Regions from separate parts of the Homo sapiens genome. Here region 1 is reported to be linked to region 2. Evidence: microRNA targets listed by miRTarBase, many of them from high-throughput screens and not tested one by one. Region 2 holds a microRNA gene; the other region holds the end of a gene's coding sequence.
What was found. The annotated mature microRNA hsa-miR-548g-5p reads UGCAAAAGUAAUUGCAGUUUUUG and lies in region 2 at 3,240-3,262, shown strand. An mRNA with a match to its seed (bases 2 to 7 or 8) in the 3' UTR can be bound and repressed. Matches are read on the target gene's strand: a 7mer-m8 pairs with bases 2 to 8, a 7mer-A1 pairs with bases 2 to 7 and ends in A, and an 8mer does both.

Region 1 (5,069 bases), not on the chromosome of region 2:
CAAGTAGCTGGGATTACAGGCGCCTGCCACCACGCCCAGCTAATTTTTTGTATTTTTATTAGAGATGGGGTTTCACTATGTTGCCAGGCTGGTCTCAAACTCCTGACCTCGTGATCCACCCGCCTCGGCCTCCCAAAGTGCTGGGATTACAGGCATGTGCCACCGCGCCTGGCCAGATGTGGACTCTTTAAAGACATGCTCTGAGTCAGAGGTTCCCAGCCAGTGTTAGGATCTCTGAGAGCTTACTTCCTTCAATGCCCCCCAGGCCATGGCGTATATAATAGTTACAGGAGAACAGGGCTGGCATTCAGCAACAGGGTTCAGGTACGAGCTAATGTGGACATCAGAAGTCAGCCTGGCCCAGAGGCAGCTAGGCAGGCCACTAAGATACACTACATAAACCTTTTCCCATGGTGTTCTGGGCCTAACATGTAATACTGCCTCTTCTAACTCTCACAGCCTGCTTAGGTTCTGCACATAGCCCAGACCTGAAGCAAAGCGCCCTTGCAGAGAAAAAAATAACAGCTTTAATTCACAGATTTGGTTGGTCTTGACCTCAAGTTCTTCCTTTGCCACGGTCTAAATCAGGGTGTGGGGCTAGAGGACAGATAATGAGAGACTGAATCATTTATGAAGGCCTTGGCCAAAGAGCAGCTAGTGCCCACTACATGGATCCCAGCAGGGCCAAATTCTCAACTTGTTGGCTTAACAAAAGAATGAAAAAGCTCAAACAGAAAACATACTGGACAAGGTTGGTCCAGAACATGCAATCCTAAATGGCTATGGAATAAATTTATTCTGAGCAATATCTCAGTCTCACACTCACTAAATTCTAGGGTAGTTCTATTGAAGATGTTTACCATGGTTTAGCGCACTGAGCCCTGCACCCTTCCCCAGGCTGCCAGGGAAGCAGAGAGGTACAAACATTCCTAATGCCCCAGTCAGCCTGTTCTCCCTATGGGGTCCCTGGATTACCTGCAGGGACCTGGGGGAAATTGGCTCCCTGTCTTCAGCTGAGAGTCTGGAATCTGAACCCTAGATGAATCTACTGAAGAATGCTCAAGATGATGGATACCAAGCTGAGTGAGTCTAGGGGAGAAGAGAGGCCTGAACAAAAGAGCTGGGGCCTTCAAAGAGGTGTATGAGAGGTGAGGTTAGTAGTGCCAGGCTTTCCTATCTTTTCCTTCTAGTTTGCTAGAAACAAGTACAACTTTAGGGTGTGGGGGGAAGGCAGGTAGACATGAAGAAATGGAAATACAGTTCATTCTGCTAGACATTTTAAACTGGTTTGGCTTGAGAAAAATAGAAAGTCTGTGCCTGAGAACCTTCTTTTCCTCTCCCTTATTTAAGTACAATAGCAGCTATAATCTGTGCAGTTCAGCTCCAAAAAACAGGGCTCCTGGAAGATGGCTTTCATGGCAGAGAGTTGATGGGGTAGATTAATGGGCTCTAGGTAAGGAGCAACACCAAGGGTCCCTGAAAACTGAGGCCAACACCTGCTCCCTGGGGGGGGGCCATTTGTATTCCCTGACCCATGTAACAAGCCTGGCCAGCTGTGGGTGGAATCCATGTGGTTCTATCAGAAGGCTGCAGCCAACATCAAGGCCAGGCAGTCACCAGGGTCAGCTGGGATCTGAAGGGAGGCTTCTAAGACCAGACACCCTGTTAGTACTAAAGATGATGATTTGGGGGTGGGATGCCTGGAGGGGCTGGCACCATTCAAAAAAGTATTGGAAAACATTAGCCAAGAAAAAGGCTCCTTGTCCCTCCTAATCCATATCCAGATACCCCCAACCAGAGATCTTAAAAAGGATAGACCAGCCATATGCCAACATGCCAGGATTCCAAAAGCATGCCTCAACTAATTAGGGTATTCCCTACAGCAGACTGGGGTAGAGGGGCTCCATCCTGGCAATAACCAGAGAGCCTTACCTCGCCTAGGCCAGGGTATGGAATCTAGATGAAGACTGTCCACAAACAGTGGCTCTCAAGCCTGGGCTAAATAAATAATATTTTGCTTCATTACATGGCCAAAGGAGAGGAGGAGATAGAAAAGATGATATTACTACCTCTGTGGGCTGGAAGAACTTCACCTGTTGGTTGAAAGGGGATTAAAGGAAGATAACAGGAAAACCTGGTCTGGAGAAGACATAAATGAAAGCTCCTGGAGGCCACTTTTCTCTGATTAGAAATCTATCCTCACACTCTGCCCCTAGTAGACTTTAGCCTTTGGAGTTCTTAGGGAAAACTGGCTTTAAGCAGCAGCCAGATCACCAAAAACATTTTCCATCTGGTACAGGACCCGGAGCTGAAGCCAAAGTAGATTTTGGAGGAACAGCTGGACAAGCAGGATGTGTATGTCTTACACTAAGAAACTGGTCCCTGTATCAGGGACTTAACTCTTACTTGAGATGTACAAAGTAGATCCTACTAAATTGCCCTTTGGAAGAGAACAATGGGCGGAGGTTGGGTAGGGGAAGGCTTTTTTTTTTTTTTTTTTTTTAAACTGTAAGAGAATGGTTTTTTAATGGAGGTAGCAGGCCAAGTGAAAAAAAGATTCTGCCCCCTGCCTTCCTGGGAGATTGGGAGTTGGCAGCCATCATTCCCAAGCTGATGAGTGGCATATGACTCACCAAGGTGGTACAACATGGGTGGGATTTTTCAAGGACAATTGCCAGACCTAAACCATCCTCCTCAGAAAATGGCTTTGAAGTGGGACTGCAGCACTAGGAGAGGGCAAATTCAAGATCAATGGCCAATAATAAGTACCTGAACTTTAGGTCTATAAGCAGAAGGGCATGGATTTCACCTGAGCCAGAAGGAGATGTGTAGCAATAGAAGCAAGAATGGCATTGTTTCAGAGGAAGGAAAAGCAGAGCTTGGAGCAGGATGCCTCTGACTAACCACAGTGGGGAGGTGGGGGTGGGGCAGACTGTGCCTTCAGCTCCACAGCTGGTCTACACCAACTTCCTCTACTCCCATCCAAACAGGTGGGCTTTACTATCATATGTAATCCACCCAGAGGCACAGGCAAGCCACTAAGGCAATGCACTACCGTAATTCAAACAGAAAGAAGAGGCATCTGGATTATAATTGTCACAAGGAAGGGAAAACCCAAACCAGGTACAAGGATCCCAAACAGGGAAGATACGCAATAGCTCTAAAAAAAAAAAAAAAAAAAGCAGGCTACTAAGTTTCAGTGATAATAGATAATAGGAGAGGCAGCCATGGGTGATCAGTTATGTGGACAATGGCCATTGAGATTGAATTTGACAAGGCAAACTGCTTCTGAGTTTCCTGATACAAGCAGGATGTTCAGCAGTAAGGACAGAGTAGCAGACTTCACCAGGCCCTGAGGCCATCCTTGCTCCCTTCAGGTCCTGGGACAATCAGGCCACGCTGACCTGCTTTATGAAGGTTCCAGAGCTGAAGGTTGGTCCCAGGTGGTGGTCCAGAATCCAAGCAGAGAGGAAAAGGACCAAGCTCAGGCCTCCTGAGCGAGGAAGCATCCATATCTCTTTTTGGTCTTCCTCACAGTATCCTACTTACCGAAATGACAGACAGTTCTTCCTCTTGAGACCAATTAAGATTGACCTACCTAATATATAGAATATAAAAAAATACAGAACTTTTTGACATTCTCTCCTTTAGAAGTAAAATATACATGATCCAACTATGGAAGAGGAAGAAGAAGAAGAAGAAAGGCCAAAGGCAGGGATCCCTGACTATCCCAATACATGACACTCTCACTCCACCCTCCTCTGCAACTTACAGGTCACCAGAGCAAGGACTTTCTCCTCAGGAGAAAGGAAGGACCACAGCCCCCTATCTCAAGCTTAGGAGAAAATACAGCCACCTCAGAGGTTCTCTCAACCTCGAGGGGGAATTTTCAAGTAAACAAATGAAGTTGGGTCGCACCATTTGGAAGGTGAGTAGGAAATATGGGATCAGTAGCTACACGTGGGAAGCCCCATCTGAAGGCCTGTGCTCCTCCCCTGCACTCCCACTGGTATACTTGAGACACTTCAGGAGAGTGAGGAGGATCCCCCAAACTAAAGAGGTCTGGGCAAAGAGTCAGAGGGAGGGAGGGACCTTTGTTTCATGGTAGCCTCCCCAGCCTCTAGTCCCAGGCAATGCAGGCAGCTGGGTTTACTAAAACCAGGAACTTGTGGCTCTTGGGAAGAGCAATCTTAATACAAGAAAAATGTGCAAAAGAAAAAAAAATTAAATAACTCAATCCAAGCGTACAAGATTAATATTCTGTCAGAGCAAGAACACTTTGTTTTGGATTTCTCCCTTCCCCTCCCACCTCCCACCTCTGGAATATACCGTCTGCTCAAGTACCCAAGATAAGAGTTACACAGATCAGGGCAGAGGACCGGGAAGAATGAAAAAAGATAAAGGGAAGGAAGTCACCACTGAAGAAAAAAAGAAAAAAAATAAAAATAAAAAAAGGTGCAAATTGATTACCTTAGTCCTCCTTTGTCTACCCCTGGGCTCCTGGGTTAAAGACATGTGTGCAGCCAAAATATAGTGTAAGGAAGAAAAACCCAACACGTCCCCTTCTTGTCACAAAACCCAAAGGTGAGCCTCAGATGGTTCTGTCTGTCCAGAGGGTGCTCCCTCCAGGGAAGGGGGCGGAGCAGGTCAAGAGCACAGTCTCCAGGGCAGCAGAGGTGTGTGGTGGCTGATGGTGGGGACACTGGTTTCCCGCCCACCAGAGGGCTGCTCTTCCGCTGGCTGGTGGTGCTTCCCATCCCCTCCCCTCCCTGGAGGCAGATATTATAGCTGGAAGCCCTCCATGGGGGCCTCAGGCTGCTGGAAGATGAACTGCTGTTGCGTTTCATCGACTTGGGGAGCCAGGCTGCTATCATCGTCTTCTACACCAAAGTAGTGCTCAATGAGGTCGAAGGCCTTCTGGTAGATCTCCTGGTTCTCGTGGCTCTGGAGAAACTCAATTTTATCCAAGCCTACAGTAGTAAGAAGGAAGGAGAGGGAAGTGTGAGTGCTTTTCTATGGGCAGGTGAAACATTTACCTATTTTTCCTTCCCTGAGGTATGTTAGTGCTT
Region 2 (5,075 bases):
GCAAAATAAGTTTACTGAAAATTTTCTTAAATTGAACACTTACTAATCTTCCAGATATCACCTTTTGTCAGAACTCAAGAGTTATGAATGGCCCTCACTGTAATGACACTTTCCAACTGAGCTCCTCTCTACTCTGAATACAAGAGACCCTAATAGTTAGGCAGGAATATCATCACCCCTGTTCAGCATGAAGAAGTTACAAAAGATGGATCTTCATTCCTCTGCAACCCTTAGGATTAAGGATTCTCTTGTAAAAGGGAAGGGGAAAATGTCAGAGGTGTTTGAACCAGAGCAATGCCATCTTAAATAGGAGCTGGGTAAAATGAGGCTGAAACCTACTGGGCTGCATTCCCAGAGGGTTAAGTATTCTAAGTCACAGGATGAGACAGGAGGTCAGCACAAGGTACAGGTCATAAAGACCTTGTTGATAAAACTGCAGTGAAGAAGCTGCAAAACCAAGATGGTGACAAGAGTGACCTCTGGTCATCCTCATTGCTACACTCCCACCAGTGCCATGACAGTTTACAGATGCCATGGCAACATTAGAAAGTTACCCTGTATGATCTAAAAAGGGGAGGCATGAATAATCCACCCCTTGTTTAGCATATAATCAAGAAATAAGCATAAAAATGGACAACCAACAGCCCTTGGGGCTGCTCGGCCTATGGAGTAGCCATTCTTTTATTCCTTTACTTTCTTAATAAACTTGTTTTCACTTTACTCTATGGACTCACCCCCAATTCCTTCTTGTGTGAGATCCAGGAACCCACTCTTGGGATCTGGATCGGGACCCCTTTCCAGTAACAGTTGGCTAAGGAGATCAGAAGTAGGCAAAACTCTATCAAGAAAATCAGGATGTTTTCTCCAGAAGGCAGCACTGAACTATGACTATAAATTTAGTAAGATAGAATGCAGTTGATGATAACGCAGTCCTTCCGGAGAAATACAGGGTGAAGAAAAGGAGACAGTGAACCAAGGCATAGACAAGGAAGATCTAAGGAGCTAGGTGATGTCAGTGCCCATCCAGACTCCAACTAGAGAAAGGGAATGAAAATGAAAATAGTTGTTTGTTCCCTGTAGCGCATGTTCCATGCTAGGTGATGGAGCCTCATTCTGAGAAATTTTCATGCCACGAATCACTCAAATCATACAGCTAATTACCCTTGCTCAATCTCACTTCCTTCCAGACACTTTTGATTATAAGTTGGCTTCCCATAGAGCTCTCCCTTCAGGAGTGAATGTTCTGGTCCTGTCTATGGAGTTCTCCATATTTGGTTTAGTTTGAACCCATGTCAGATCTGTTTGCTGTGTGCTAACCAAATCAAATTTTTCAGCCTTTGCACTGAAGACCAGCATCTGGACTGCAATGACTTCACCTGAGGATATATCATCACTGTGTGTCTCTTTTCAGCGATTTCATACCTCACCTGGAGAATCCCTTACCCATTACACATTTTAATCAAGTAGAGAAAAAAATGAGTAATTGATCCTCATTCTTTTAGTTAAATGGGGCTAGTAAACACTAGTCAGATTAGGAGGGTGAAATTCATTTTTCTTTTATTGTTCAATTCCTAACTTAAACAGATCTCTCTCTTTAAATATAGATGTAGATTTTTCCCTCTGTGGCCAGTAACTTTGTTGAACTATGCTAAGCTGTTTAGAAAGATGGCAAGATGCTTTGTATGTCATTCTATTGCCTTTCAGCATAGATAACTTTGGACAAGTCATTAACTTCTGATTATCAAAAAGATGTGGTAGTCAAATACTCTCATAGCATCACAAAGGGACATAAGTTTAAAAAGCATCTATTTTGAGTAACACACACCTAAAAATAATAGGGGCCGATATTTGAATCAAAGGAAAGGGTATATCTGAATATATCTCATTACTGTGTACTTGAAATGCAGCTTTAAATATAGAATGTTTCTGAGAGTGCTCTTAGGATGAAATTAATAGAAATAAAGTTAATTTCCTGTTTGACTGTCACCATGTGACAATACAAATTAGATGAATTTTCAGCACACTTACAGAGATGTTTAGGATGCTTAGAATACAAGCTAAATCACATACGCAAAATACCCTTGAGGATGCCTTTCAAATAGAGGAGCAGTCATCCTGCAAAGCAGCTGTGATTGGATTACCACAAGCACAGCAGTCCACAAGACTGTCAAAAGGTAAGAACTGTCATGCTGTGGATAGAGAAAAAAGTAGTACTTTTACAACGAACCCCAAACTGAATGACTCAAAGAGAGATGCTATGGAATTACAGGAATTTCTTTGCAACAGAGCTGTTTCTTCTCACACGGGCAATTCTGTGTGGTACATTATATGGGAGTGCCATAGTCAAGATTTTTTTTTTAATTTCACAATGATATGGATTCTTCAAATAACAGTAGAGAGGCTAACAGTGCCATCAACTTCATACCAATACTTCAAGAGCAGTATCCTCAGAATGCTCCAAATAATAACCACTAACACTTATTCAACTAATCCTTATGACTTCCTAATGAAACAAATTGCTATTATTCCTATTTTATAGATGAGAAAACTGAGGCACAGAGATGTTAAGTAACTTGCCCAAGGTCAACTGGTAAGTAATTCAGAATAGTTTGGTTTCAGGGACCCTGCTTGTAACCACTACATTTGAGGCCACACAGTGACTTCATGGAACAACAGTATCCCATGAGATGTTATTAGATATTATATGGAATTGTTAACAGTGCTGTATTAGTCCATTTTCATACTGCTATGAAGAAATACCTGAAACTGGGTAATTTATTTAAAAAAAAAGAGCTTTAATGGACTCACATTTCCATATGGCTGGGGTGGGGGTCCTCACAATCATGGTGGAAGGCAAAGGAGGAACAAAGGCACGTCTTACATGGTGGCAGGCAAAAGAGCGAGTGCAGGGTAACTGCCCTTTATTAAACCATCATATCTCGTGAGACTTATTCACTATCACCAGAACAGTATGGGAAAACCCGTCCCCATGATTCCATGATTCAATTACCTCCCACCAGGTCCCTCCCACAACACGTGGGGATTGTGGGAGCTACAATTCAAGAGATTAGGGTGGGGACACAGCCAAACCATATCAAGTGATGTAGTTCAACAAAAAATTTGGATATGTAGAGTTAAACCAAGTTAAATATTTTTTTTTCTACAGAACTTCTCAGAGTCTTTAATGTCCACTGTGAATTTTCACAGAGCTCTCAGTTTGGAAAAAGGTATTAGGTTGGTGCAAAAGTAATTGCAGTTTTTGCTATTACTTTTAATGGTAAAAACTGCAATTACTTTTACACCAACCTAATATTTAAGATCACTGTTTATTTTCTTGGCATTGTGTATTTTGATATTTTTAAAGAGAAGACTACTTCTACCTTTAAAAATGCTGGCTAAGAGAAAGCCTTAATAAAAATTTCAAAAGAGAAAGATTTGAAAAATAAGTTATAAGATAAAGTTTGTAATAGTCTAAAGTTAGAAACTGTTAGAATCTATTAGAGTTAGAAGCTCTCGAAGCTGGAAAAGAGAGCAATACCGATGTTCAATTTTAAAATGAGGCATTTAAAATAAATATATTGACATGGAAAATATCTAAGTTATATTGCGAGCTGAAAATAGACAAGATAATTATGCTTTTTAATGCAAATGCTTTTAAAACAATGCAGTAGATATATGCATGTACATAATAAATGTAAATGCATAATAAAAGGCACAGGATAATACATATTGATAATGAATCAGGTTGCATATGAAGATGAGAGTTGGATTGTTAGGGGTCAGAGAAGGGATGAAAAGGGACTTATTTCCATATTGTTTATTATTTTGGATGTATTCATGTAACCATATATTATGTCTTTAAAAAATTTTCAAGAACCAATAAGGTGTGGTGACTGACTAGAGTAAGAAGCCAAAGAAAGAAAGAGGCTAAAAATAATGTTAAGAATTGAATCCTAGAAGAAAACAATAGGGAAGATGGAGAATGTGCTGGCTTTTGTGGGAAATAATGGATTTGGGTTTCAGACATGCTGTGAATTAGGTGACACCACCGTGGTTCATCAGCATCATAGTTTTGTGCCTCCAATCTGGCTCTTCTATATGCAATTCCAAAATACAAATTGATAATTGTTGCTTTTATACTGAATACCCTTTGATGTCTTCCCTTTGCTCTTTAAGAGTTCAAGTTGTTTAATATGGTTTACAAAACCCTTCATGATTTGTCCCTTGCTGATCTCTCTCTCTCGTATCTATCCTCTAACCACACTCAAAAGTTCATTCCTCTAAAAAAGCCATAATCTTCCTCACCTCCAGATCTTCCTATTTGTAAGACTCTGCCTGGGATACTTCCCCCATTTCTCCATCTCCTAATTCCTAAGTATCCACAGGGATCTACTTAAATGGCTGACTCCTAGTTTAGCTTAGCTATCTATGATAAACTGAATAATGGCTCCCAGAGAAGTCCACATCCTTATCCCCAGAACCTGTGAATATGTTACCTTAGATGGCAAAACTTTGCAGATGTGATTACGTGAAAGGTCTTGAGATAAAGAGATTAGCCTGGATTAGATGGGTGATCCCAATGTAATCACAATGATCCTTACAAGAGGGAGGTAGTAGAGTTAAAGTCAGAAAAGCAGGTGTGACGACATAAGCAGAGGCTGAGGTGATGGGCTTTGAAGTTGGAGGAACAGCCACAAGCCAAGGAATGCAGATGGCCTCTAGAAGCTGGAAAAGACAAGGAAACAGATTCTCCTGCAGGCTCCAGAAGAAATGCAACCCTGCTAACACCATGATTTTAGTCTCCCAAGACTCATTTTGGACTTTTAACCTTCAGAACTGTAAGATAATACATTGTATTGTTTTAAGACAATATGTTTGTGGTGATTGGCTACAGCAGCAATTGGAAACTCATAGTATCTATCCAATACATTTTCATACTTCTCTTACAGTAACACTGTATCAGTTGGGATAGGCTAATACAGCTTTATTCAAAGTTTGGGTTGCAAACCAGTGCAGGTCTGTAAACTTACTGGTTTGCAATTATATAAGTAAAGAAATTAAGAATAAGCATTTAG

Region 1: the mRNA of KPNA6 is a reported target of hsa-miR-548g-5p. Seed matches in the 3' UTR shown: 8mer at 4,208-4,215.

Annotation. Positions count from the first base shown.
Region 1 is chr1:32,170,608-32,175,676 of GRCh38, reverse strand. It overlaps KPNA6 (karyopherin subunit alpha 6), which reads right to left. Exons shown (of 14, transcript NM_012316.5): 14 at 1-4,970. The coding sequence ends at 4,783. Among named protein-coding and RNA genes, the nearest start is that of TXLNA, 6.5 kb to the left of the region's middle.
Region 2 is chrX:38,022,136-38,027,210 of GRCh38, reverse strand. MIR548AJ2 (microRNA 548aj-2) reads left to right here and starts at 3,225; the gene lies at 3,225-3,316. All of the region lies in intron 1 of SYTL5 (synaptotagmin like 5), which reads right to left.